4 linked regions of the Homo sapiens genome follow. The protein of the gene in region 3 interacts with the protein of the main gene of each other region in a biochemical or structural test. Each region holds a gene or a part of one and is shown on either strand. Other genes may lie near its edges.

Region 1 (7,024 bases), on a different chromosome or scaffold from region 3:
GGTGGCTCATGCCTGTAATTCTAGCAATTTTGGAGGCCAAGGCAGGTGGACCACCTGAGGTCAGGAGTTCAAGACCAGCCTGGCCAACATGGTGAAACCCTGTGTTTACTAAAAATACAAAAACAAACAAACAAACAAAAATTAGCCAGGCTGGGTGGCCGGCGCCTGTAATCCCAGCTACTTGGGAGACTGAGGCAGGAGAATCGTTTGAACCCGGGAGGCAGAGGTTGCAGTGAGCCAAAATCACACTACTGCACTCCAGACTGGGTGATAGAGTGAGACTCCATCTCAAAAAAAAAAAAAAAAATTGGGACCATCACCCTATATACAGTCAACTCACTGACTGAAACATCATTTTTTTGAGACGGAGTTTCACTCTTGTTGCCCAGGCTGGAGTGCAGTGGCACACGATCTCGGCTCACTGCAAACTCCGCCTCCTGGGTTCAAGCAATTCTCCTGCCTCAGCCTTCCGAGTAGCTGAGATTACAGGTGCCCGCCACCACGCCTGGCTAATTTTTGTATTTTAGTAAAGACAGGGTTTCACCATGTTGGTCAGGCTGATCTCAAACTCCTGACCTCAGGTGATCCACATGTCTCGGCCTCCCAAAGTGCTGGGATTACAGGCGTGAGCCACCAAGCCCGGCCGACTGAAATATCGTTATGGGGCTCATCACTATAATCATATTACAGTGTAAATGCTATGACAGAACTTGTATTTAAAGTATTACGTCATTGAAACCAAATGTTTATGAGAATGTGGCTGAACTCAACATACTAAGGATTTCTCTTAAATTTTACACAATACGTTTTGAAACTATTGTCCATGAATTCATTGAACCCATTTTTAGTATGCTTATATTTTCACCTGTACTACTTCTTAAAAGTAACAAGTTCTGTCAATTTACGTCAGCTCTGTAAAATAGCAGGGCATTTCCTTTTACTTAGTCCTAAAACTACCTTCTCTAAGAGGAGCCTCTTGGTTTTAGTACTCTAAGATTTTGTGAACTAAACATTAGAAACATAAATTATGATTATGTAAATTTAAAATCATACACTTAGCCTGTCTTTTCTTACATGACCCACTCAAGCATTATTATCTCTTGGATTTTTTTTTATACGACCACATGTAGTTATCTCTGTGTTACCAAGCCACAGTCCTATGTCACTTTTTTTTTTAAGAGATGGGGTCTTGTTCTGTCGCCCAGGTTAAAGCACAGTGGCACTGCCATCCTTGCTCACCACTGCAGCCTTGAACCCAGTGGCTCAAACGATCTCCGACCTCAGCCTACCAAGTTGCTGGAACTACAGGTATGCACCACCATGCCAAGCTAATTAAAAAAAAAAAATTTTAGAGGTGGGGTCCTTACTATGTTGCCTAGGCCTGTCTTGACATCCTGAGCTCAGACTGTCTTCCCATCTCAGCCTCCTGAGTAGCTGGGATGAAAGGTGTGATCCACCATACCCGGCAGTTTTGTATCACTTAAAGTCACATAACTTGCTTTTGTTTTACCAGAAACAACCCTTTAAATTTACCAGACTTGGTTATATATTATTTTTGGTTACATACAAAAATTTTAAAAATCAATCCCACCATTAAAGGGTTAGAATATGACAACTGGGGATATCAGAATTTCATCCAACAAATGTTTATGAGTGCCTCACAAGCATTACCATCTAGCTTATTTGCTAACTCCGCTTCATAGGACAAAATGTTAACATGTGCAATTACCATAGTCACGGAAAAGTAGCTACAATTTCTTATGTTCACAGCTTTAATAAAAGTAAAATATCTTATGGCTGGGCACAGTGGCTCATGCCTGTAATCCCAGCACTTTGAGAGGCTGAGGCAGTTGGATCACCTGAGGTCAGGAGTTCGAGACCAGCCTGGCCAACATGGTGAAACCCCATCTCTACTAAAAATACAAAAATTAGCCAGGTGTGGTGGTGCATGCCTGTAATGCCAGCTACTTGCGAGGCTGAGGCATGAGAATCTTTTGAGCCTGGGAGAAAGAGGTTGCAGTGAGCCGAGATCTCACCACTGTACTCCAGCCTGGGTGACTGAGTGAGACGTCTCAAAAAAACAGGTAAAATATCTTAAAGTTACCAATAAGTAGAAATAGAATACAGCATCCAGTGTCTTTCACTGTAGATTTCATTTTTCTTAACAAAGCCATAATGCCTACCTATAAGATAAAATTTTAGAGGTTTTAGTTAACAAGCAAGTGTACTTATGGTGATACTGTTCTGAGATGAGCAGATATCCATCTCTGCTACCTCAGGATGACACTTCATTTACAAAAATACTATACAATTACTGTCTCAGGTTTAGATTAGCAGCTAATTAATAACTGAAGTTATTTGGGATTCTATCCCATCCCCAATTCTCTACCCCACCACTAATGTTCTCGGAATCTATCATTCAAAGGGTCTTATCTCTACCATGCAGTTCGAATAGAATATTCATTTTTAGTTACATTTAGTCCCATTTAGTTTTGTTCTACTGCTGATTTTCCTATTCACGTTTTTATCCTACAACACTCTCTATCACATATACCAAGACTGCTCTTCAATGCCTTAAGGGAACACACAATCCCCCCGATTCTTCAGCATCCTCTCATAATCTGTCTCATCATTTCTAAAACCTTTGCAAAGATTTTTTTGCATTAAAAGGTGAGTCAACACATAAACATGAATGAAATTTACATACTAACCTATCTCTATTTTCTTTATGTCTTACAGCCAGGAGGAGTCTGTGGTTTTTTCATTTTTTTCCCCCCAAAGAGTTTCCCTGGTGATATATTCAATAATTAATGAACCAAATGAAATCTCCTGTTCATAAATTTTAATTCCCATAGTAAGGTTAACACAAACCATGAAAACTAATATCTAAGTTTAAAATTTTTAATTACTAAGTTTTTTGTTTTTTAGACCACACGGCAAGGAGATCACATTTTTCAGGGTGTTTTTTTTTTTTTTTTAACCTCTCAACCGCTTCCCTAGAGCCCTTTTAATACGTAATACAGATAACTAAGATCCCTTGTTGACAAATTTCAATTTCCTCAAGTACTTAACTGCCTACCATGTTCCATTTAAATACACAGTTTCATCGGCACGGTGGCATGCACCTATAGTCCCAGATACTTAAGAGGCTGAGATGTGAGGATTGCTTGAGCCTGGGAAGTCAAGGCTGTAGTAAGCCATGATCGTACCACTGCACTCCAGTCTGTGTGACAGAGAGAGACTCTGTCTCAAAAAGTATATACATGCATACATATATAATTTAATTTGCAGAATTCTAGAATGTCTTAAATTATTTCCTTATAAAAACTAGCCACGGTAAGCCTTTTTAACTATCCTAAACATAATGTATATAATTTACGTCACATGCCAATTAGACATAAAACCTCATTCAGCTTAAGCTGCCTTACTGGGTTTTTAATTTCACTTACCAAGTAGTTAATGACAAATTTTCATATTTTAAACAATCTCTGGGTAAAGGTGTTTAGTTGAAAAACTGAATATAAAAATAAGGAGAAAAAAAATGAGTCAAGCCATTGCTAAGTGTTGCCATTAAAAAAAAAAATTAAAAATCCTATATAAGAGCCTAGCAATTATTAGTTCTTTGAGCATAGAGGCCATTGTCCTCATCTTGTCCCTCCCAAAGTAGTATTCTCTCTTTCTTCAGCTATAGAGAAATTGATAGAATCTGTTCCATAGAGAAAGTAGATTTCATTAATTTCTCCACAGCTGAAAATTCATGACAAGCTAAAAGTAAGAGAGTAGAAACAGTAAGGCCTCTAAAAAGAGTACTTTATACTTTTTTTTCCTTTCTTTCTTTTTTTAAGACAGGGTCTCCTCTGTCACCCAGGCTGGAGTGCAGTGGCATGATCATAGTTCACTGCAACCTCTGCCTCTTGCGCTCAATCAATCTTCCTACCCTAGCCTTCCGAGTAGCTGGAACTACAGGCGTACACCACCACGCTTGGCTAATTTTTGTATTTTTTTGTAGAGATGGGGTTTCACCATGTTGCCCAGGCTGGTCTTAAACTCCTAGGCTCAAGCAATCTGCCTGCCTCAGCCTCCCAAAGTACTGGGATTACAGGCATGAGCCACTGCAACTGGCCAACACTTTTGCATAATAGGTAAGAATTAATGTTTAAGGATATTCATTAACCAATTGTATATATGACAACAAATTAAAAATATAAATAGGAGAGTAGTTATGATGCATTCATACAGTGAAATATTATGCAGCTATTAAGAAGACAGCGCTCTGACTTGCAGAGATACTAAGAATAATGATATCTTCTGAGCGAATTCTTTTTTAGAGGGTTCCTACTGCAAGTAAGACAAGCATCTCAGTGGGAGTTTGTCCTTACCCAGTAAGGTATACTACATTTCTTTTGTAATAACTACACAGTATATGAACAAACCCTGCTAAAGCCAAAAGTGGAGGAACAATTAAGCTGTTACTGCCATAAATATGAAATATAGACACTAAGAGAAACTTTATATTATTTCAGCAAGTCAGTAGCATCTGAGTGTAGAAACATTTCATGTGATTTCTATTTCAAAAAAGATAAAATAACACATCTTTCAGCAATTCTGGAAGAAAAGGCTCTCTATAAACATACTGGAAAATGGAACTGAGGAACACACACTGTGAACTTACCAAGCATTTTTCTGTCCATAACTATTGCTCCAAAGGAAATTCTCCGGTCCCTGTACCATCCACACGACCTTGGCACAAAGGTGGTAGTGAAGCATGAAGATTTAGGGCACTGACTCTGGTCCTCCACTGCTGGAGTTTGAACACTGGCTTCACCACTTGTGTACGTTAACCGACACATGGTAGTCAATAAAGGTTCACTGAAATTATTACTACAGTTGAGAGAAAGAGGTCTTTGAACTAAAGATGGAAAAATATTAAAATACTTCAAGGGACAGAAGTATATTTAAGCAGGAATTCTTTTAAGAGATCCAAACATTTTGGGTGTGCTCAATAGGTTATTTTTTCATCCTAAGCCAGATCTCTCTTCAAATCTGTGGCTCATTTTCTTTTCATTCTTTCTAATCGTATTGTAATTATTCAGGAGGCTTAACTAAAGTTAAAATTTTCAAATCTATTTTTTTTAAGTTAATTATCCAGTTTGTGATCTAGGTTCTTGTATTTTAGTTTCTTCTTGACCTATTCTACTCACTTGCCGCTTATTATCATCACTCCACCAGAGGGCATACAAAAGAAAGGTGATAACGTGAAAACACTCAAAGTTGGTAACTTGTTAGCTTTCAGAGAAGCTGTAGCAGCATCACCAAACACCTTACGTAGCACTAACGCTGTAAGATTCTCTGGAAACCGTCTTCTCCATTTGAAACGGCATTAGCTAAGATACAACAAATATTAATTCATGCATTCATTCCTTCATTCAACAAATATCTGAGTCCCGACCATGTGCCAAACATATTCTAGGCTCTAGAGATTCGGTAGTAAACAAAACAAAACTTCCTATTGCCACAGTGCTTTGTTCTGTATCTGTCTAGGAGATAAATAATACAGCACATCAATAACATAATTTTAAGTACAGATAAGTCGTATGCAAGAAAAAAACTGCAAGAACTTCAAGAGGTTAGAGGGTGACGAGGAAGGCTATTTTCAAATAAATTAAGTAAGGACTGAATGAAATGAGAGGATGAGCTATGTCTTCATTGGGAGAAAGCATTACAGGCAGAACAGCAAGCAAAGGCCCAGGCAGAAACTAACCTGACATGCTGGACCTACAGCAGTGACGATGGCGAGGCTGGAAGAGAGTGAGCAGGGCAGAGAGCAGCAGATGAGACTAGAAGGGTGTGCCAGAGCCCAGTCACCGTCTCTTGATCATGGTATTAAAAAAAAAAAAAAAAAAAATCCTGATTTTTTTTCAGATGGGGTCTCACTCTATTGCCCAGGCACAAACATGGCTCACTGCAACTTTGACCTCCTGGACTCAAGCAATCCTCCCGCCTCAGACTCCCATGTAGCTGAGACCACAGATATGCACCACCACGCCTGGCTAAAACGTTTTTATTTTATCTAACAATAATGGGTTCTGACGACTGAGATATAACCTGCTTTGATTTACCTCTTTTAAAGTTCATGCTGGCTGGTGGGAGACAGAGAGTGGAAGCTGACAAACCAGTTGGGGGGCTCCTGCAGTCATCCAGGCCAGGGAAGAATACAGTTTGACACCAGGGTGGTGGTGGTGGCAGTGCAGGTGATAGGAATGGTCAAATTAACTTTTTAAAAAAGATGGTCCAATCTGCAGTGATTTTGAAGGTAGAGCCCATAATACTTGCTGTTGAAGGAATAGATTTAGAATGAGTGAAATGGGGAATTAGAATTTTTAGCCTCAGCAACTGGTGGATGGTGGTACCATTGACTGAGATGGAGAAGAATGAGAAACTGTAGCCAATGAGGCAGGATGAAAATCAGAAAGAGCGGTGTCCCAGAAGCCAAGGGGAAACGACATTTTGATAGGGAAGGAGTTATCTGTTGCCTGTGTCAAATGTGGCTGAAGATCCAGTTTGGCAAGACTGACATCCCTGGTGACCTGGAGAAGAATTGTTTCATGGAGTAGGAGGGATAATGTGTCTCTGAAGCGGGTTCAGAAGAAGATGGCAGATAAGGAGTAGAGACAGCCTACATGGAGTCCCTTCAAAGATTTTCTTTTTGAAGCAAAGCTGCATTGTTATTGTTTGAAGTTTTATTTTTAACTTTTCATTTCTCCCAGTGCTGGGATTACAGGTGTGAGCCACCGCGCCTGGCCTGTTTCATGTTTTCATTTCTCTTCTTCCACGTTGGAAACCCTAGTTCCCAAAATATCAATGAATTTACTCATTTGCTCAATCCTATAATGCACACAAAATAGTTTCAGAATTGCTACACCTCTACCATACAAATAATAGCCTACTACACAGAGTTCAAGATTATTTTTTCAGTTCTTTAATCTTTAATCCTGTGCTCAAAACTTACTTGGTTTTTTTTTTT
Region 2 (7,181 bases), on a different chromosome or scaffold from region 3:
ATTTTTCATCCAGGAAAAGAACAAAAGAATATAAAGTCAAAAGACAACAACAAACTGAAAGAAATATTTACCACTCATATCACAGATTAATTTCCTTTATAGCTCCCCAAGAAGAAAAAAAACACCTAATTTTTTAAATGAGCAAAGGATATAAAAATCTCTCTTAAAATTATGAAAAGAAGTTTAGGTTCCCTCTTAAAAATAAATATGGGCCCAGTGCATTGGTTCATGCCTATGGGACGCTGAGGCAGATGATCGCTTGAGGCCAGCAGTGTGAGGCCAGCCTGGGCAACAAAGTGAGACCCCATCTCTACAAAAAATAAAGAAATAAATTAGCTGGGCACGGTGGCAAGCGCCTGTGGTCCCAGCTACACGTGGTCCCAGCTTTTTAAGAGAGGAACCTCATGGAAGCTGAGGCAGAAGGATCATTTGAGCTCAGGAAGTTGAGGCTGCAGTGAGCCATTATGGCACCAAGGCACTCCAGCCTGAGCAACAAGGTGAGAACTTGTCTTAAAAAACAAAAAAACAAAACAAAACAAAAAAAAGGTGGTGGGGGCGGAAATAAACCTACAATGAATTACTACAATAGCAAAGATCAAGGAGTTTCATAACACAGTAGGAGGTCAAGTGTACGGAGAAACACAGATTGCTGATTAAACTATAAACTACTGCCACCTCAACTCAACTGACAGCAATTTGACAATATTAAAATGTACAAGTGTAAATATGCCATTTTTAGGAATTTGCACTACCCATATACTCATACTTGTGATTTATGAGATATCAAACTGTTAATACGAGATGCAGGATTCAAATCCAGGCCAGTCTGTGTTCATTACCATGCTGCTATGCACATACATTTGTATTGTGCACTAAAAGGCTAGAAGCACACATAATGAAAAGACTAGGTTACCTCTGAAAGTGGGACCAGAGTTAAAAGTGATCAGGAGAATTAATTTATTAATATGTATTTAATTAATATGTATTTAATGTACATTTTTTAAGCCTGTTCCCAGAGCCCAGGGTTTCTCAGTACCTGTGTTAACTGAGATGCCTTCGCCTGCCAGCTCAGCCTCTGCAGGCACAGAACTGCTGGCTGGGGCACATCTGCCTCGGTCCTTGTCCTCGTGGTCACTGTCCTCATCCTCACTGCTGCTATAGTAGTACTGCAGTTTCTCCCCCAGCAACTTATCATCAAGGGTGGTCATGGTGTCTGGAAAAAGAAAGCATATCAGGTTCTTTGCTGATTTGAGCCAGACAGACATGAATCTGAAGCATAGGGGGCTCGCCTGTGCTGAGATCCTACAATTTCCAGGACACTAAAGTGATTATTTTCATAACCAAAATCTTAACAAATCCCTACCGTTACCCTGTGTGTTAGGGCTTATCACACTCTTTAACAGAAGGTAAAACTGAAGCTCAGATAAAGGAAGAGTCTTCACCAAGCTTAACAGCGAATGACGGAGCTGGGACCAGACCCCAGGGATTCCTGACTCCAAGAGCCTGAGGTATAAATTACTCTAGTCTGAGTTAAGTGTACAAGCCACCTGCACTGGCTTGGAGGAATCTACTGACTAGTGGTTTTATCTGTGCTTTTAGTTTTCCCACCAGCTAAGACTGCTGCCTAATTGAAAAATTGTTTAAGTATCCTCAGGAAAAACCCCAAAAAGAGGCATCAAGAGTACAATGCTGAGTCACTATTTGTCTAGGCAATCACTCTCTGTCACCAGCCTTCAACTTCCCAGACAACACCCTGAGGGCTTGGATGGATGGTCTCTGAAACGCTACCTATTCTGACAGTTTAAAAGAAGGGCCCATACAAAGATTTTAATAACTCCCAAGGGTTTAAAGGACTATGATGGCCGGGCTCGCGCAGGTAATCCCAGCACTTAGGGAGGCCGAGGAGGGAGGATCACTTGAGACCAGGTATTCGAGACCAGCCTGGCTAACATGGCGAAACTCTTGTCTCTACTAGTAAAAGCAAACAAACAAACAAACAAAAATTAGCCAGGTGTGGTGGCGGGTGTCTGTTTTCCCAGCTACTCAGGAGGCTGAGGCACGAGAATCTCTTGAATCCGGGAGGCGGAGGTTGCAGTGAGCCAAGATCACGCCACTGCACTCCAGCCTGGGAGACAGAGCGAGACTCTGTTTCAAAAAAAAATAAAAACTAAAAATATAAAGGACCAGGCTTCTGCATCAGAAGTAGCCAAGGGCATTCTGATGAAAAGATGCAGCTTAGCCCCCAGAGGCCTGCTTGAGAATTCAGCAGGAATGCGGCTGCCTTAAAGACTTATCACCGGGCCTATCATACTCCATTTACAAAGTGACTCTCTCCCACCGGGCAAGGAGTTCTTGAACGTAGGGACCTCTAGTCACTACCTCTATCCCCAAAGCCCAGCACAATGCCGCTGCACAATTTGCTAAACTCGCAGCCTGGGTCAACGGGAGAATCGGAGGACTCCAGCAGTCAGATGCAAAGGAGACAGGGATCATGGAGAGACAGGTGGAGGTGCCAAGAAGGAACAAAACCAAACTTAAGGCCCAGGAATGGGCCAAGCGGGGGACACAGCAGCGGCGGAGGGGAGGGAAGGAGTTGCGCTCCTAAAGGAGGGACCGCTGCGGGGAGGAGACGAGGGCGGGCCCCCTGGAGACGCGAGCAGAGGAGGCGGGGCCCCCGGACGGGAAGCAGAGGGGTGTGTGGAGCTTTTGGGGGAAGGCTGGAAGGGCCCGGGGGAGGTGGGGCCAGAGGAGGAAAGGGGACGAGGAAGACGCGGAGAACTTGGGGGTCGAGACAGAGCGAAGAAGGGGCAGTTTTACCCAAGCTCGCCAACCCCACTCCCTCCCGTAGTCCGCAGCTGCTGCCGCTTCCCGGTGGACCCCAATGCAGTTACCTGCCCTAGCTCGCTCCGGATCCCTTTGGGCCAGCAGCTCCGGGCGCCGGAAGGAATGGAGCACTTTCTTAAGAGGAAGAGCAGTGGGTCAGCGCCCTGAGCGCTAAAGAGAAAAGCCGCCGAAGCCCGACAGCGCGGACCAATGAGGCGGCCTTCCTGCGTCGTGGCGGACGCGCATTGTCCAATCAGAAGCCGCTACTCCCAGCTGAGGGGCAGGGGAGAAGCTACGGGTCCTACCTTGGAACAAAACACCTCGACAACAACGCTCTCCTAATTGCTTTGTTTTGGTTTTAATCTGCACAACAAAAAAGTGAATTGTATGACCCAGCGTCAAGCAATAAGAAAAATGTATTCACAGGCCGGGCGCGGTGGCTCACGCCTGTAATGCCAGCACTTTAGGAGGCCGAGGCGGGCGGATCACTTAAGGTCATGAGTTCAAGACCAGCCTGGCCAACACGTTGAAAACCCGTCTCTACTAAAAATACAGAAATTAGCCGGGCCTGGTGGCCGACGCCTGTAATCCAAGCTACTCGGGAGGCTGAGGCAGGAGAATCGCTTAAACCCAGGAGGCAGAAGTTGAAGTGGGCCGAGATCGCGCCACTGCACCCCAGCCTGGGCGACAGAGCGAGACTGTCTCAAAAAAAAAGAAAGAAAGAAAAGAAAAATGTATTCACTTCCCTTCGAAGTTTCCGAAGCCATTCAAAGTGTGTTTTTTATTGGTTCTTCATCGCATCACGTCTATTAGACGGAAAAGTGACTCAGAGACGTTCGGTAATTTGCCCGAGAGCACAAATCCCTCAAGTACAGGGCATAGATTAAAATATATATATATATTTTTTTGACGGAGTTTCGCTCTTCTTGCCCAGGCTGGAGTGCAGTGACGCGATCTCGGCTCACTGCAACCTCCGCCTCCCGGGTTCAAGAGATTCTCCTGCCTCAGCCTCCAGAGTAGCTGGGATTACAGGCGTCCGCCAGCAGACCCGGCTAATTTTTTCTATTTTTAGTAGAGACGGGGTTTCACCATTTTAAAGAAGCGGCAGCCAGGAGTGGTGGCGCGCGCCTGTAGTCCCAGCTACGCAGGAGGCTGAGGCGGGAGGATCGCTCAGCCCAGGACTTGGAGGCCAGCCTGGGTGACAGAGCAGGAATGTAATGTGAAATCCGGAATTGGCTCCTGGTATAGAAAAAGGACATGGGGCCGGGTGCGGTGGTTCACTCCTGTAATCCCAGCACTTTGGGAGGCCGAGGCGGGCAGATCACCTGAGGTCAGGAGTTCGAGACCAGCCTGGCCAACATGGCGAAACCCCGTCTTTACTAAAAATACAAAAATTAGCCGGGCATGGTGGTGCACACTTGTAATCCCAGCTACTCGGAGGCTGAGGCAGGAGAATCGCTTGAACCCGGGAGGCGGAGGTTGCAGACAGCTGAGATCGCACCACTGCACTCCAGCTTGGGGGTCAAGACTGAGACTCCGTCTCAAAAAAGAAAAATAAAAAGGACATGAATGGGACAACTGACGAAATTTGAATAAGGCCTATTAATTCATATTAGTAGTATTGTATCAATAGTTTTAATAATTATACTATGTAAGATGTGAACTTTTGGAGATTCTATTAGATGAAGAATCTAGGGAAGCACTATCCTATTTTTGCAACTTTGTTTTCTTCTTCCAGGGTAAAGCCATACTATGATATTTTGCAACTTTTTTTTCTTTTTCCTCAGGCATACTTTGTCGTCTGTTTTTGCAACTTTTTTAAAACCTAAAATGATTTCAAATTCTGAGCCCTTGTTGAAGTATCCAATACACAACCGTGAAGTTGCTCATAGAAAGCTTTGGGTAAATTGAATCATAGAAAATATTCTAGAAAGATACACTGTTTAAAATAGGGCTCTTAATTTGGGGTAGGGGATCTTAATTTGTGGTTCTAGGACCACCTGAAATTGTCTGCAAATTTCTGTACCTGCCTGTTTTCAGAGAGGCTGTTTGCTGAGGCCCTCAGAGGAGTCAAAAAATACCACACACAAACACACACCCATTCAAGAATACTGTATTAATAAGTCCGTTTTCATACTGCTGTAAATAAATAACCCAGTGTCAGGCAGTTCATACTGCTATAAAGAACTGCCCGACACTGGTTTATTTATTTATTTATTTATTTAAGACGGAGTCTTACTCTGTTGCCAAGGCTGGAGTGCAGTGGCGCAATTCTCGGCTCACTGCAATCTCCGCCTCCCAGGTTACAGGCTCCCGCCACCACGCCCGGCTAATTTTTGTATTTTTTAGTAGAGACGGGGTTTCACCGTGTTAGCCAGGATGGTCTCGATCTCCTGACCTCGTGATACACCCGCCTCGGCCTCCCAAAGTGCTGGGATTACAGGCGTGAGCCACCGCGCCCGGCCATATTCAACCTTTTTTAAAAAAAGTAGAAATGGGGTCTTGCTATGTTGCCCACGTTGGTCTCAAATTCAGACCTTTTAATATATTCAGTCTCCTGGTTGTATAGATATAGTGATGTCTTTGTTGGGAATGTAGCTTGCATCTGTCAGGAATATGTGTACATGAGTTAGCTATCTAATAATATCCAACAGAACCACTCATTTTTCCTGTTAGAAATGTGGAATGGGCCAGGCATGGTGGCTCACACCTGTAATCCCAGCACTTTGGGAGGCCGAGGTGGGCAGATCACGAGGTCAAGAGATCAAGACCATCCTGGCCAATATGGTGAAACCCCGTCTCTACTAAAAATACAAAAATTAGCTGGGCATGGTGGCGCACGCCTGTAGTCTCAGCTACTGGGGAGGCTAAGGCAGGAGAATCGCTTGAACCCAGGAGGTGGAGGTTGCAGTGAGCTGAGATTATGCCACTGTACTCCAGCCTGGCAACAGAGTGAGACTCCGTCTCAAAAAAAAAAAAAAGAAATGTGGAATGATGTGGATAATGAAGTTTCTGTTTAATGAGCATACTGTATGTAATTTATAGTTTTAAAGGTATTTTACCGCTACTGTAAGGTTTTTGTTGGGCTGTTTATCAGTAGAGTATATTAAAGGTATTCCCTAGTGGGGAAAACAACCCATGAGCTGTCTTGTGACGGCTAAAGCATTTATCTTTAAGCAAGGGAAACCTTGATCCAACCAGATTTATAGGCTATTTTTAAAAATATTTAAAATTTTGAAGTAACTGAATGAAATTCATATATAAGTGATTAAATAGGCCGGGCACGATGGCTTATGCCTGTAATCCCACCATTTTGGGAGGCTGAGGCAGGCAGATCATTTTAGGCCAGGAGTTCAAGACCAGCCTGGCCGACATGGTGAAACCCCATCTCTACTAAAGATACAAAAATTAGCCGGGCTGAGTGGAGCATGCCTACTGTAATCCCAGCTACTTGGGAGGCTGAGGCAGGAGAATCACCTGAACCCGGTAGAAGGAGGTTGCAGTGAGCTGAGATCATGCCACTGCACTCCAGCCTGGGAGACAGAATGAGACTCCATCTCCACAAAAAAATAAATAAATAAATAGCTAGATAAATAAATAAAATAAATGATTAAATTCCTTGAAGCATGAGTTCCAAGACTTGATCCACTCTTACAGTTTTTCCAAATCATAACAGAGGCAAAACAAGATTTGGTCTTACAATGAGTTTCTCATGTTAGATTTTTTCTACCAATATTTTTGTAAATTTAGAACAAATTTGTCCTGTTACTTTATTTTTTCTATAAGAATTAAAGGTCCAGAGATGATTTTGAATGACACCAAACCATATGAGGACTGTTTGAGATAAACAGCTTGCCCATCTGTCTTGTCTTTTCTTTCTTTTTCTTCATTTCCTGAATTCTTTTATTTTTCTTTTCCTTCCCTTCCTTTCTCTTCCCTTGTGCCTTTTCTGCTCCCTCTCCTTTTGTCCTTTCCCCTCCCTTGTTTCTCTTTCTTTCTCTCTCACCTTAACTTTCCTTCTCTGGTGGTGGTGGTGGTGTGTGTATGGCAGGGTGTTCCATCTGTTGCAACAGAATGTCTTTCTTATTTAAAAATCAGATTAAACAACCTTTTTTTTTTCTTTTTTGAGACAGAGTCTCGCTCTGTCACCCAGGCTGGAGTGTAGTGGTGCGATCTCGGCTCACTGCAACCTCCGCCTCACAGTTTCAAACAATTCTCCTGCCTCAGCCTCCTGAGTAGCACACGCTCCTGATTACAGGCACGCGCCACCACACCCGGCTAATTTTTGTATTTTTAGTAGAGACAGGGTTTCACCATGTTGGTCAGGCTGGTGTCGAACCCCTGACCACATGATCCGC
Region 3 (7,368 bases):
GGCTTCACCCAGATGACAGGAACAGAGGTGTAACTTGCTGTCCTTAATTCAGTAGTCCATAAGGGATTGGTTTTGAAGGTGCCTGGCTGGGATCTGAGGATATGAGAATGAAAGGAGCAACAAATTACCTAAAATTATATATGTGTATAGGTTTAAAAATTATTTCAGTGATGCTTAATATAAATATATGTAGTTTAACATAGGATTGCAAGACTCTTCTCATTTACTAGCTATTTAGTCTTAGTTAAGGTAATTCATCTAAGGTTCATTTACTTCATGTATAAAATATGAATAGCTGCATTGGTTGCCTTAAATGCCTAAGAGGTGCCTGGCACAAGAAGATGCACAATCAAATAGTAACTATTTTTAGCTATTACTACAAAGGTTGTCTTTAGTCATGGCCTATTACATTGACTTATAGTCATTGCAAATCTATCAGCTTCAGAAACTGGATGCAAAGACTTGTCGTACTCAAAAAAAATCACAATAATATGAATCAGTCTGGTTCATAGAATCAATAATAATTTTAAGATAATAATAATATAATGACATAAAGCACTTGCTATTACCAGGCATTGTTCTCAGAGCTTTGTGTATATTATCTTGTTTATTCCTCCCAATTATCCTCTGAATTAAATGCTATTACTATCGCTATTTTGAAGAAACAGAGGCACAGGTGAGTTAGATAACATAGATGAGGGTTGCACAGGCAAAAATTTGTTGTGGAGCAAGAATCTGAGCTGGGAATATGGTTTCAGAGTATATCCAATTAACCATACTGTACTGATTATCCACTTAACCACTTACCCATACTGAGTATATCCACTTAACCATACTGTACTGATTATACATCAGAGCTAGGGGCTCAGGACCTGGAAGTTCCATTTTATATATAATATAACATATTATTATATATTTTATAGAGAAATAATATTTCTATATATTACATACATATTTCTACACACTATATAAATTCATTTGTTGAACTCCTAACTCCCTCGGTGGGGTTTTTGGTAGGTAATTAGGTCATGAAGACAGAGTTCTCATAAATAGGATTACCGTCCTTATAAAAGAGACCCCAGAGAGCTTCGTCATCCCTATCACCAGGTGAGGACAAAATGAAAAGACAGGTGTTCATGAAGGAGGGAGCAGGCCCTCGCCAGACGCTGAATCTGCTGATGTCTTGATCTTGGATGCCCCAGCTTCCAGAGCTGTGAGAAATACATTTCTGTTGGTTAAAAGTCACCAGTCTATGATACTCTGGTACAGCACCCTGAGGAGACTAAGAGGGTACATGTATATGTATGTGTATCTATATGCATGTGTGTTTGTGTGTGTATGTATATGGAGTTTTTGCAGTCTGATATTAAATTGGTTTGACTTCCAAGAGCAGAGAGACATTGAATAATGGGGAAAAGGAACCCCAAAGCCTGATTAATGATGATGTATGCGATGTTTACCCAAAATAAAAAGTCCAAGGTGAACTTACCACAAGTGAATAATAAACACGAAGACAATCACCTTGCCTACAAAACAATAATCCTGAGTACATAAATAATAAAACAGCTTTTGGATATTTCAACTTAAGAAGAGAAAACTTTTCTTTATCCTAAAAGTTCATTTTATTTACCCTGAATTGTAAAAATAAGGACTTTAACTTGTCTGGTGTATGTTCTAAGCCTTAGTAATGATTTAATTTTATCTTTACAGCAAAACGTTTTGCCTGTATGGAAAGGGCAACAGGGGAGTTTGAGATTATTATAAACATAGACGAAGCCCAAAATCCCAGTTTTGACTGGGAGCAGGCATTTTGAACAAAGTATGAAGATAACACAAGATCCTTTTTTACTTTGTCCTGATAAAATGAGATGTTTTAAAATTATGAGATTGCTGTTACCACTTGTGGAGGTTTTGTTCTACTGTTAATAACTTTCCTAAAATGAAGTGATCTAAAATACATATCTACATTCTCCAAGCTTTCATCACTGTTTGTTTGGTGGTTTATTCCTTTGCCATTTCTTCTCCTTCTAATGGCAGTGAACTGTTGGTAACCCTTTCCAAGATTTGTCAGAAGTTTGTAGGAGGAACCAGTGAGTTCTTATGTTTGAACTCATCTTTATTTGCCAAAGAAGAGTAGAATGTACTTATGTATTACTGACCATGACAGTGGAGAGGGGTTGACATCATAGCTTAAAGTATTGCAGCAATATCAAAACATTGTATCAAAATATCAATATCAAAATATTGCATTATAAAAAGAAGTTTAGAAAAGTAAAAACAAAATGCCTATATTATTGCATGCGTATATTTATTTTATTGCTTATCTAAAATATGGTTTTTGTCTCATATTCTCCTTTTTCTCTTTTTCTTTTCTTTCTCTTTTATTTCTTTCTTTCCTTCTTTTTCCCTTTCTTTCTCTCTCTCTTCTTTCTCTCTTTCTTTCTTTCTTCCCTTCTCTTTAAAAATGAAAAAGCATTCTTATCTTTGTGGTCATACAAAAAGAGGCTAAGGATTGGGCTTGGCCAGAGGAAAATGGTTTGCCAACCTCCTTGATTTAGAATCTAAATCAAGAGATAGTTATGATTGATTATCAATTTTCTTAATCTTTGATAAATTTTTAGATGAACAATTTATTTGTAACTACATTGAGCCTTTCCAGCCAATGTTTTCTAACCTGGTACTCCCACAGTATCTCTAGCTTAAAATAAAATACTAAAGAAAGCAGCAACTTACTAGCATTCTTTCCAGTGTCACTTCTTTCTTGAGCTGGTCAACTTCCATCTTCAATTTGTCCTTTTCTGTCAGGTCCTCAATATTGATTACTGGCATCTTTTTGCCTGCTGAAGATGTAGAAGGTTAGCAGCTATGCATGAATTGCTGGAGTTATTTCAAGTCAGTCTTAGCCAACAATTCCCTCAGCTCTTAACTTACAAAGTAAACTGTTCTTTGTTTTATTTTAAATATCCCACGATAACCAATTTCATATGAGCTCTCTCTCTTAACAATTCTAGCAATGCACACTAGCCTTGGGATTTTAAAGCTTCTTCCTAATCTTCACTAATATGATTAAGTCAAGCATTTGACTCCAAACACCTGTTCAGCAGGTTTGTTGGGAGGGGTGAGTTTTGTCAGTATATAATCTAAAATACTTAAAGCGCCTCCTTGCCCCTGGTCTTTTGTATAGTGTAAAATTTGGGGTTTCCAATCCTTACTTTCAATTCCAAAACCCTCCACCTATGTTTTATGTCATTTAACTTAATTTGAGGTCATTTGGATGACGGTCCATTAATTCCCTAAATCTCTAGAGTATTTAACCTGGTATTAAAAGGGAACCATATAAAAAGTATCACTATAATTTCATTATAAATAATGGATTGTTTAAATGTGTACCCGTAGAATGGAAATATAGTAAACAGTCTTATTAATCAGAAATAAACTAGCGTATTACTTGTGAGCGTTTTTCCAACAACACATGAAATTTGCCTGTAACTGTCACAATGAATCTGGTAACAATGATGAGAAAATTTAGCAGGCTAAAGGGGACATAGCAAGTCTGATCTACCAATAACCTCCTACTAGAACAGACTCTTTCTTCTGCCCTCTTTGCAATTCCTCTTCTCCCCAATTAGACCAGTGAGTAATGGGGAAGAAGGCTCAATAGCTGGTGATAGTCCTATGAAATTGCCTGGGAAAGATTTCAGTGTAGCCAAATGGCATTGTACCTATAGTGTCTCCTCCTTCTCCCTAGTCCAATTTTTGTAATGAAGTATTATTATAAAAGTAAGTGTATATAGATCACATACTATTTCAGAGAACAAAATAACATTTTACATCTACATGAAAATACTCTGCTAATAATCTATCAGCAATTAACTTATTTCCTTGAATTTAAATGGTGTTTTCATTTCCAAAACCATTGAAGGAAGATTCTTTCCCTTCCCAGTCTTAAAATACCTTGTTTTTCTCCGGATAAGTAGTAGTTTAAGAATTTTTTTTTTTTTTTTTTTTTTTTTGAGTAGGAATTTCGCTCTGTCTCCAGGCTGGACTGAAGTGGCGCGATCTCAGCTCACTGCAACCTCCGCCTCCTGGGTTCTAGCGATTCTTCTGCCTCAGCCTCCTGAGTAGCTGGGACCACAGGTGCATGCCACCACGCCCAGCTAATTTTTTTATTTTTAGTAGAGGTGGAGTTTCACCGTGTTGGCCAGGATGGTCTCAAGTTTAAGATAATTTTAAGGGACAAATGTCTACATAGGCCAACATAGAGGTAGAAAATAACACACTGTGGGTACTTGAGCCCAATGTGTCCTATGTTTTTATTTTTGCTATTCTGTTCTTTAAGAAACACTATGACTATACAAAGGTTATTTCTTCCTGTATAAGCCTGTTTTGCATTTGGGAACCCAAATTTTATTCTCATCTTCCTTCCCAGTCTTTTAGACTAAATATAAAACTTCATTAAGTATTTTTGATGATCATTTTTACCTTTTGACATTGTTCTTTGCACAATTTTTCTTCATTTTGGAAAACTTTTAATTCCTTTAGGTAATGGCTCTTCACACTCCAGTGTGTGCAGAAATCACTTTAGGAAACTCGTTAAAGTTATGAGTCCAACCTTAGAGATTCTAATTTAGTAGATCTTGTGTTGGGTTTAGAATTTCATTTTCTCTATTCCAGGAAGCCCTCTCATATACTTACCAACAAAATAATCGTTTACTGGTACTTGCTAGCCATGTGACACTGACCAAATTACTTGACCTGCCTGTGCCTTAGTTTACAGGGAAATAGGGGCAATAATATTACCTACCCTGTAGATTTGTTGAGAGTATTAAATGGGGGTAACATAGGTAAGGACTTTGTAATGGCGTGTAGTACATAGCAAGCACTTGCACGTGTTAGCTGGTGTTATTCACTTTGTTGTGCTTCCAGAATTTCAAACTGTACTTTCTTATATGGCCCTTGCCATATAATGTATGTGATCTTATAGGTGCTCTAAAGAAGATAGGTGATATTACTGATACACTTAAAGGAGATCATGCGTACATAATTTGACTCCTTTAATATCATGCATTCCAGATGTTACTGCCCAGCTCTCCTTTTTTTCCAGGGTAAGATACCTAGTCCGCAGCAGCTGCAGGTGTTGACTGTCAAGGGCAAACCTTTTGCTCAGGTTGGCTCTTGTCTGATGGGCAACACTTTTCCTGATGATGCCTGGGAGATTATGCTCCCATCTGACCCCTGAGGTTGACTTGGAGCAAAAGGCTGGCTAATGTGGGGTCCTATCAGCCCAGCCCCCTTGCTTCTGGGCTGAAAAACTTTGTTGTAACTGAGAAACTTCCAGAGCCTTTCCATGGGTTTAGAATGATGCTAGACTTCTGAAACCACTTTTGACTAACTTCTCCTCTTGCCCTAGCCTTACTCCTCTAGCAGTTTCTCCTGAGAGCTTGCCCTGGAAAACTTTCTTACCCAATAATTCCTGTCTTAGGCTTTGCTTCTAGCAAACCCAACCGAAGACACAGTGAATTTTTAGAGCCTTTACAAGGGAGATCATACCTTGCATGACTTTTACGTCCTCATTACTTTCTATTGTTCTGTATATTGTTTGGTATATAGAAGAGATCAGGAAGTATTGACAAAGTCACCTAACCTATGTCATATGCATTTACCTAAACATAGAAAAACATCCAATTTTTCTAACTTCATTTTATCAATAAATGATTTCTTAACTCTAAAATGCTGTGATTCACCATGCTCAATAATATTAAACATTTAAAACACTTTATTTAGGGCAAACATATTATTAGAAGATTCTAGAATTCTTACCAAATTTGATGGCACAGGTCTTATATGAGAAAAAAAGAGGACCAAAATTTTCACTTATTTCAAGGACACAAAGAAGAACAGTGAATATTGTCTGCATGGAGATTCCAAATGTTTAGTGTTATATTGAAGTCAATGGTTCAAATAATTCAAATTTAATATCATCTACTTTACTCCCTATTCCATTTTGCAGATGAGGCAAAGGCATTCCAGGGAGTTTGAATGCCCTAAATTAAACAATGAGAGGCAGTGGAGCTGAGGTTACAATACAGGTGTTTGTTTTTCATTCCAGCATGTCTGAACTGAGGTGTTTTTCATTCCAGCACGTCTCTCTCAAACTAGTGTAAAGGAGTGGATTTCTTTCTTCATACCCCAGAATTACATAGAAAGTCCGGAGTTGATGACAAATAGCACTAAAGCTGCCCCTCATATTCTAAGCTTTCAGGTTGGTCCACTTCTCCACAAAAAAGTCCTAAGAGACTAGGTCAGATTATTATCCCTATTGCCAAACATCCCCACCCCAACTTTAGTCAAAATTTAAGGGGAAGAGTGAAGATCTATAGACAAACAAGCTAAGACTGCTATTACAGCCAGCCTGGGGGAAAGCATACCCTAGTTAAGGAGATGTTTGCCCTTTCACTTCTTCCTCCATCCTGCACTACCATCAGAGTATCTAAGGTCCAATAAAAGGCAGGAGGAGGGTGGGAGTGGGGGAAGTATTTCTGAGTTGTATCCCATCCATAGATCCCTGGTTCTCAATGGGGGCAATACTGCCCCCTAGGGGCCCTCATGAAAATATGTCAGCTTGTTTATAACAGTATTCCATAATTTTTGTGGGTATGGATAAGGAATGTCAGATATCTTGCATTTTCTGGGATCCTGCAGCATAAGATGAAATGTGACACATTCAGCATGACTGTCAGATATGCCAGGCTTCCACATATGCAAAAGCCATATTTATAGTTCTTTGAACCTTGAAACTCACTTCATTTTACATAGAAACAAAATATTTTTCTTGGTTATTATATACACTTTTTACAATAATGCATATAAATAAAAGGAAGACCATTAACCAATAATTTTTGTTTCTCTTTCAGAAAATCATATCACTCTATGTAGGCATGGGCTTGATATATGTGTATCTATTCTCGGCTGCTATGTCCGTGGTAATTCTATACATAAATCTATTTCATTATGTATAGTCATGGTGAATATTTTCATATTGTATTTAGTCTATATAATTTGCTGATTTTTTGTATTTTATAAATATAATTTAGGTACTGTGATGGCTAATACTGAATGTCAACTTGATTGGATTGAAGGATGCAAAGTATTGATCCTGAGTGTGTCTGTGAGGGTGTTGCCAAAGGAGATTAACACTTGAGTCAGTGGGCTGAAAAAGGCAGACCCATCTTTAATCTGGGCGGGCACAATCTAGTCAGCTGCCAGTGCAGGCAGATTAAAAAGCAGGCAGAAGAAGGTGAAAAGGCTAGACTGGCTTAGCTTCCCAGCCTACATCTTTCTCCTGTGCTGGATGCTACCTGCCCTTGA
Region 4 (7,876 bases), about 35 Mb from region 3:
ACTGGCTTTTCCATTTCTGAAAAAGAGGCTGTTGGAATTTTGATAAGGATTGTGCTAAATCTGTAGATCAATTTGAATTATATTGACTAACACTGTTAAATCTTCCTATCCTTGAATACGAAATGTCCTTTCACTTATTTAGGACTTCTTTAATTTCTGTAAGCAACATTTTGTACTTTTCAGTATATGAGTCTTTTACCTCCTTGGTTAGATTTATTCACAAGTATTTAATTCTTTTTTTTTTTTTCTGAGACGGACTCTCGCTCTGTTGCCCAGGCTGGAGTGCAGTGTCGCAATCTCAGCTCATTGCAACATCCGGCTCCCGGGTTCAAGCAATTCTCCTGCCTCAGCCTCCCAAGTAGCTGGGATTATAGGCACCCACCACCACGCCCAGCTAATTTTTATATTTTTAGTAGAGACGGGCTTTCACCATGTTGGTCAGGCTGGTCTCGAACTCCTGACCTTGTGATCCACCCATCTTGGCCTTCCAAAGTGCTGGGATTACAGGCATAAGCCACCGCACCCAGCCGTATTTAATTATTTTAGATGCTATTGTAAATGGTATTACTGTTTTAATTTCCCTTTCAGGTTATTCATCACTGGTATATAGAAACACAACGGATAATTTTCTCATTTTTGGGAGGGAAGAAATTGAGGCTCAGAATAAGTTGCTCAAAGGTGCATGGCTAGTAAGGCCCAACTCAGGGCTCTTAATTCTGAATCTATCGTGCTGTCTCTCTGAAGAGGTTGCTTATTGGGCCCCTTTACCATTTTGCCCTTTCCCTTTGACTCAATGCTCTTAATTGCAAAATAGGAAGCACTGGGAAAAGAAAGAACTGGAGCACAGCCGGGTGTGGTGGTTCACACCTGTAATCCCAGCACTTTGGGAGGCCGAGGTGGGCAGATCACCTGAGGTCGGGAGTTGGAGAGCAGCCTGGCCAACATGGTGAAACCCCATCTCTACTGAAAATACAAAGATTAGCTGGGCATGGTGGCAGAAGTCTGTAATCCCAGCTATTCCGGAGGCTGAGGTAGGAGAATCGATTGAACCCAGGAGGCGGAGTTTGCAGTGAGTTGAGATCGCACCACTGCACTCCAGCCTGGGCAACAGAGCAAGACTCCATCTAAAAAAAAAAAAAATTGGAGCACTGCAACAGTTATGTTCCGAATTTTGCCAGTGTAACAACTGAACCACAGGAGGCAGCCATGGTCTCAGTGATACCCATGGATACGTTCACATCAACCCTCTTTGACTGGAGGGCCCACAGGCAAATGACAGTCAACATTGAATTTGTGACCTCAAAATGCCAAAATACTTTATGAGAATGACTCAGAAATCAAGAAGCTACTTGTAACAAATCAAGTACTGAAATGCATTGTCAACACAGGACAGCCTCTCATCCCTGAGAAAAGGATTGTGTTAGGACATGCAGTTGAGGCTAAGACTCTTGAGGAACTGGGTGGGGTGTGGCTCAGGCTTGCTTGGGAGAGAAGCACTTTGCAGCCTGCCACCAGGCTGGAGACCTGAGTGTGCCAAGTCACTCTGCGTAGTCTAACAGACACTGGCAGTCTTGTATGTCTACAGGAGGGGATGCATGAACTTTCTCCAGGAACCTGAATACCATTCACGAACGACTGGGAAATTCCCTCTCCCCAGTCCCCACTGAACAGTTTCCTTCTCTCAAATGACAGGATTCCTGAATCTCTTTCTACTTCCTTCTATATCTAGGAGATAGCACATCGCTGCAGCTGTCACTAATGGGAACGTGGCCTGATAGCTGTGGACAGTACTAGCAGCATTTTCTCAGTCTGCCTTCCTGCTACCCTTTGCTAGGCCAGCAGGATTCCCACAAGGGAATACTGAAGTCTGATGAATAGGAGCACATGTGTGCATGAGTGTACACACACACACACACAAACACACACACACACAGAATTGAGAACTTATGGTATATTCTCCCCTCAAGAAGGGAAGAGCATTCTGGCTGGAAGATAGTGTCTTAGGATAGCCTCAATTTACCTCTGCTATCTCCAATGTGAAGGTATTATATTCCCACAATGCGAATCTTCCTCATACTTCCTGAGAAACCTCACACAAGAAATGGGAGAGCCTATATCCTTGAAGAATTACCTACTGACATTTGGAGTAGAGAAATAAGGGCCTGCCTGAGCACATGTGTAAGTTCTTCCCTAATACATGAAATATTAGGAAAATCCCACAGGGCTTCGAGACTGCCACAACCAGATATTTTACTCTTGCTCACTCAGGAAGGTAAAGAGAAAAGCAAAAACAAACAAAACAACACACACACACAATCAAATAGAAAATAAGTGCAGATAGTTCACAAAGCAAAGCATCGGGTGTGCTATCAGGCTCCAAGGCAGCTTTCTCTACAGCTTGGACTTAGACATGTTATAACAGCCATTTTATTATGTCACAGAAAGAAATAACTGAAGTAGGTCATAACATTTCAAATTATTTTTCCAGTAGGAATATTATGCCCTGATGACATAGTCTAGTTTCACTTCTTCCATAAGTCACCAGAGACTTTCCTTAAAATGGTCCCTTGTCTCCAGCCTCTTGCACTTCATGCCATCCTCATGTTGCCTTATGTATTAGTCTGTTCTCGCATTGCTATAAAGAAATACCTGAGACTGGTCAGGTGCAGTGGCTCACACCTGTAATCACAGCACTTTGGAAGGCTGAGGTGGGTGGATCACTTGAGGTCAGGAATTTGAGACCAGCCGGGGCAACATGGTGAAACCTCGTCTCTACTAAAAATACAAAAATTAGCCTGGCGTGGTGGCATGTGCCTGTAATCCCAGCTACTCAGGAGGCTGAGGCAGGATAATCATTTGAACCTGGGAGGTGGAGGTTGAGGTGAGCCGAGATCACACTGCTGTGCTCTGAGATCACACCACTGTGCTCCAGCCTGGGCGACAGAGCGTGACTCCGTCTGAAAAAAAAAAAAAATACCTCAGACTGGGTAATTTATAAAGAAAAGAAGTTTAATTGGGTCACAGTTCAGCAGGCTATACAGGAATCATAGCAGCTTCTGCTCCTGGAGAAGCCTCAGGAAACTTCTAATCATGGTGGAAGGCAAAGGGGGAGCGAGACATCTTACATGGCAGGAGCAGGAGGAAGAAGCGGGGAGGTGCCAAACCCTTTAAACAATCCTCGTGAGAACTCACTCATTATCGTGAGAGCAGCACGAGGAGGATGGTGCTAAACCATTCATGAGAAACTGCCTCCGTGATCCAGTTACCTCCCACCAGGCCTCACCTCCAACACTGAGGATTACAATTCAACATGAGATTGGGTGGGGATGCAGATCCAAACCATATCACCTAATATTAACCAGTAAAGATTAATATCATTCCCCTAGTCAAAACTTTGAGATTTCCTTACTATCAAGAGAATTGACCCTTAATTCTGTGTGTTATTTGAGGCTTCTTACCAATCAGTTTCCCTACTTATCTATGTCCTTATTCTAACTCCTCCTACTCACACTTTAGTCCTGGATTCAAAACCCACCTCCTCCACTTCTATCCACACTGACCTCTGTCCCCTATTCCTATAGCATACTCACGGTACATCTCATTTTGGCAGCTTATTTATCAAGTGATTACTATGTATGCTCAAGTGAACTAGATGTTTTGTGAACACTAAGAGAATGAGATAAGGTCCCTGACCTGAAGGAGGGAACGTTGCTGTTCTGTCATGCTATGTTTCCTGAGAGCAAGCCATGTATCCACAGGAAAATGGAAGTCTACAGGTTCCTCCAGGATGTCTCTGTGCTATGTACATGCTGGAATTTCAGAAAGACTTGCTAAATTGAATTAAATTCTCTCTCTCTCTCCAATTGATATAGTTGAAGTGCAATAACTAATATGCACTTAAACTGTCCAAAGTAACAGAACTAGTCCACTACCGCTAGGCCATGAGCAAGTCTTCCAGGGGTAAGAAAGGAAAACCCACCCTGGTGTGCAGCCCGATCAGCAACAAGGAAAAAGTTGCTCAGTGCAAGTCTACTCTCCTGTTTGGAGCCTTGTGGTTATGCTGGGTTATACTTGGTTGTGCAGGTGTAAACTGCTGAAGTGGGAAATTAAGTGTGGTGACCAAAAGTGTGATGCTCAAAGGAGTGAGGAAAGGCAAAATGAGCAGAGTGGGGAAGAGGAGCAGCAGAAACCTCCCAGAGCAGATGAGCAGCAGGGCCATCAAAGAAGGACTGGTTTCCTTCTCACATAACCAAGGCCAGTCCCTGGGAACCACAGTTCAGACTTCACATATTTGTAGCAGTAAAGGCTTGATGTTGGCAAGTTTATTTCCCAGACACCTGTTCCCGCAGGTAACAGCAGCCAGAGCAGCTGCCGTGAGTGACTCTGAGGTCGTCTCTCTCAAAGGTCCCGAGCTGGAAGGATTTGGAGAAGCGCAAACCCCAAACCCAGGTTCTTCTCCATGGGGCCCCGGGATACGTTGGAAAATCTAACCAAAGCAGGAAAAACTGGCGGGCCTGGAGAACGGGGCAGAGATGGAACAGAAGTCCCCGTTGACTTCAGGCATCCCCTGTCTTTCCCATCCTGAGCCAGGAGAAAAGTCCGCTTCCTGCAGACGACCTCAGACCAAGCAAGGTGCCCGCCGAGTCTCTCCTTGCAGGTCCGGCCCACGATTTCCACTCATCTCTTTCCCCCGGGCGCGGGGCGGCGGCAGGCGGGGTCACCAGATCCCCCTAGCCCGGGCCCCTCCAGGCGCCAGGGACGCTGACGCTCGCGCTCTTCCTCTCTCGCCTCCCCTCCCCACCTCTCCGCTCCTTCGTCCAGTCCCTCCCCCAGCCTCGGCGCAGGGGGGCCGGGCTTGGCTCCGCGAGGCCCGTGCATTCCAGAGAGCCCAGCGAGCTAGAGCAACAAAGGAGCCGGGTCGCCGGCGGGGAGAGTTCGGGGGGCTGCGGCGCGCTGGGGCGAAGGTGGCTGCTGGGCCGCGGGCTGGCGCGGGGGCGGAGCCGGAGCTGCACTCGCACCCCCGGCCCGCGTCTGGCCTCCCTCGCGGGGCGGGGAGGTGGCTTTAATGGTGGGAGAGGGAATGGGGCTGGGGATTGGGGGCCCAGGGGTCTCCTAGGGCTGAAGACAACTTGGATTGCGAGGCTAGGGCTTGGGGAGTCGTGCATCCCGTTCCGGGCCTCCGCAGCCCAACATGGGCCCCGGGTTCCAAAGTTTGCGAAGTTGGGCGCCGAGGGGCCGGGGCGCGCGGAGCGTCCGGGGGGGCCCGGGCCCGGATTCTCTGGGCGCACAGGTCGCCTGAGCCGCCTCCGCGGCCGCCGAGGTCGTGCGTGTGGCCGGGGGGCTCCGAGGAGCAGGCGGGGGCGCCGGGGCTTTTGCTGAGTTGGCGGGGTTGGCCATGGCCGCTGCCCGCCCAGCGCGGGGGCCGGAGCTCCCGCTCCTGGGGCTGCTGCTGCTGCTGCTGCTGGGGGACCCGGGCCGGGGGGCGGCCTCGAGCGGGAACGCGACCGGGCCTGGGCCTCGGAGCGCGGGCGGGAGCGCGAGGAGGAGCGCGGCGGTGACTGGCCCTCCGCCGCCGCTGAGCCACTGCGGCCGGGCTGCCCCCTGCGAGCCGCTGCGCTACAACGTGTGCCTGGGCTCGGTGCTGCCCTACGGGGCCACCTCCACACTGCTGGCCGGAGACTCGGACTCCCAGGAGGAAGCGCACGGCAAGCTCGTGCTCTGGTCGGGTAAGTGCGGCGGAGCCGGGTCTGGGGGGCGGGAGGTGCCGCGGTAAGATGGGGGCACCCTTGGAAAGAACAGGCTCAGGCCTGAGTTTTGGAGAGGGCGGGGACAGCACCCGGGAGAGTTGGAGGGACAGATCCCGAAACTTTGGGGGCAGGTTACGTGCAGGATGGGACCCTCGGTCATGGGAAAAGGAGGGCAAGGAAGTTGACGAAGCGGGTCACAAAGGGCCTGAGCTGGTGGGTGAGCAAAGGATGGCGGGGATGAGGGGCCCGTGAGGAGGTGGCTCTAAGCCACGGGAAAAGACATTTTGTAAGAAGAGGAGATGCTCCACCTATTCTGGAAGCAGGGTGCCGGGGGATTCAAGGAGGTGTTGAAGACCCTGGGGAAATTGGAGTTGGAGAGGAAAAGGGGAGGGATGACGGAGGAAGAGGTTTAGACATTTGGAGGGAAGGGTAGGGGGACATGATCGAGTGAAGTTTTGAAGGAAAAGAAACCTCCCTAGTGATGAATTATTAAAAGGTAACCAGAAAGTTCTGGAAATCTTGATTTGGGAGACAGGAATGAAGCCTAGAGAACTGTGATCTTGTCTGGCTTTCACGGGAGATTTCATTCAGTTTGTGCATCTGAAAAACCGGCCCTCTGACGCATGCAGGAGGTTATGAAGGAATAAGACCTTTCTAACAGTTATTTGTGTTTTCTTTGGAAATTTGGTTACCGAGGCTGGTCAGGGCTGTGGAAGGACGCTTAAGTCTGGAGTGTTGAGAGCCTGTGGACACTTCCATGGTGGTTTGAAGTCCCAAAGCCCCCTCACTGGAGTGGCAGAGTCTGAAAAACTGCACACTGAACCCAAATGTCCTTCCTTAGCAGTGTGGAGTATACTCTCCCCCACCTGTCACTTTTCTAGATGAGGCTTGGAGGGTGCTGAGGAAGGGAGCTGGCCTTATCAGCCCTCGCTTCTAGCCAGTATGATTCTAAAACTGTCCTGGGAAAAAGAAAAGAAAACCAGGAGCCAGGAGCAGAACTGGGAGCCTCCCTCTTTTGACAGGGCTGGGGTACCCCATCTCTTAGCTCTGCCCAGGGGGCTGGTGAGGACCCTAATGTAGGGAGTGTATGTAGGCCGCCTGTCATTGACAAGTTCTCGGCCTTTGTCAGATGTTGGACAAGGCCATAAGGTTCCTGGCTTGGTGCAGATGCTGGAGGAGGAACTTGGAGGATGGTATCCATGGTACCCATGAGGAAGAGCTGCATCCTTTTTGGGGATCAGGTTCTAAAGTCAGCACAGCACATTAGACAGAAATCATGTGTAAACAACAGTGGCTTTGAAAACTCTGCAGATTACCATAGTGTAAGGTGGATGTGGTTTTGCATATACACTTCTTTTACGATGTTTGCATACATGTGTTACATGTATACTCATATATAAGAATGGGTATACATAGAAGATAAAATAATTGTAATTTTAAAGTTACATTCATGCAAAAGACTGAAATAATAATAATAATAATAAAAAGAACACCAAAGTGAGATTAAGCAAGATTGCTTTGAGCACCACCCAAAATGAGACTTGAGTTTAGGAGCCAGCTGTGTGGAAAGTCCAAATCTCTCAGCACTAGAATCTCACCCAGTTCTGAGTTGCTCATGCTGTCAGAGGATAATCTTTCTGTCCCTCTCTTTATTGATTGTGCAAGGACCCATGGTTTAATTTTCCCAAGTTAAATGCATGTTTGATGTTGCCTCTGTGTAGTTACCATCAGATCAAGGAGGAAGGGTATGAACCTCTTTCCAGCCCATACTCTTGAGAGCAGCTGCTGAGCAGACAGAAGTAGTTTAAGCTGGAACATGTATCAATTAGTACCATCTGCAGGTTGTGCAGGTTGAAATCTCACTATCTGTGCCTTTTGGCAGGGCAGGGTCCTACAGAGATGCCAGCACTGAGCCCAGCACCGTTAGTTCCATTAGTTCACTATGAGTTCTTCTCTGCCACCAACCACCATCCCTCAGCTCATTCCTGTTTCCATATGTGTTCTGGTTGCACTCTTTCTGCTTGGGACTTGCAAGTAGGGCAGAAGCAGGTGTTGGCTTGAGCTGGGTAATGAGTAGGTAGAGTGAACCCAAGCCTCGTGTGAGAATCACAGCCAGGTCAGCTGGTAGC

Evidence for each region.
Region 1: the proteins of GNGT1 (region 3) and GNB4 form a complex in vitro, tested with the Homo sapiens proteins (one study listed by BioGRID).
Region 2: the proteins of GNGT1 (region 3) and PDCL form a complex in vitro, tested with the Homo sapiens proteins (one study listed by BioGRID).
Region 4: the proteins of GNGT1 (region 3) and SMO are reported together in a solved structure, tested with the Homo sapiens proteins (one study listed by BioGRID).

Annotation. Positions count from the first base shown.
Region 1 is NC_000003.12:179,441,462-179,448,485, forward strand, and holds part of GNB4 (guanine nucleotide-binding protein subunit beta-4), read right to left. Parts: intron 1-7,024. UniProt on the Homo sapiens protein: Guanine nucleotide-binding proteins (G proteins) are involved as a modulator or transducer in various transmembrane signaling systems.
Region 2 is NC_000009.12:122,825,580-122,832,760, forward strand, and holds the start of PDCL (phosducin-like protein), read right to left. Parts: upstream 3,010-7,181; 5' UTR 2,892-3,009; intron 1,214-2,891; 5' UTR 1,209-1,213; coding exon 1,037-1,208; intron 1-1,036. UniProt on the Homo sapiens protein: Acts as a positive regulator of hedgehog signaling and regulates ciliary function.
Region 3 is NC_000007.14:93,902,208-93,909,575, reverse strand, and holds the start of GNGT1 (guanine nucleotide-binding protein G(T) subunit gamma-T1 precursor), read right to left. Parts: upstream 3,010-7,368; 5' UTR 2,932-3,009; intron 2,841-2,931; 5' UTR 2,830-2,840; coding exon 2,734-2,829; intron 1-2,733. UniProt on the Homo sapiens protein: Guanine nucleotide-binding proteins (G proteins) are involved as a modulator or transducer in various transmembrane signaling systems.
Region 4 is NC_000007.14:129,183,757-129,191,632, forward strand, and holds the start of SMO (protein smoothened precursor), read left to right. Parts: upstream 1-4,876; 5' UTR 4,877-5,395; coding exon 5,396-5,726; intron 5,727-7,876. UniProt on the Homo sapiens protein: G protein-coupled receptor which associates with the patched protein (PTCH) to transduce hedgehog protein signaling. Binding of sonic hedgehog (SHH) to its receptor patched prevents inhibition of smoothened (SMO) by patched.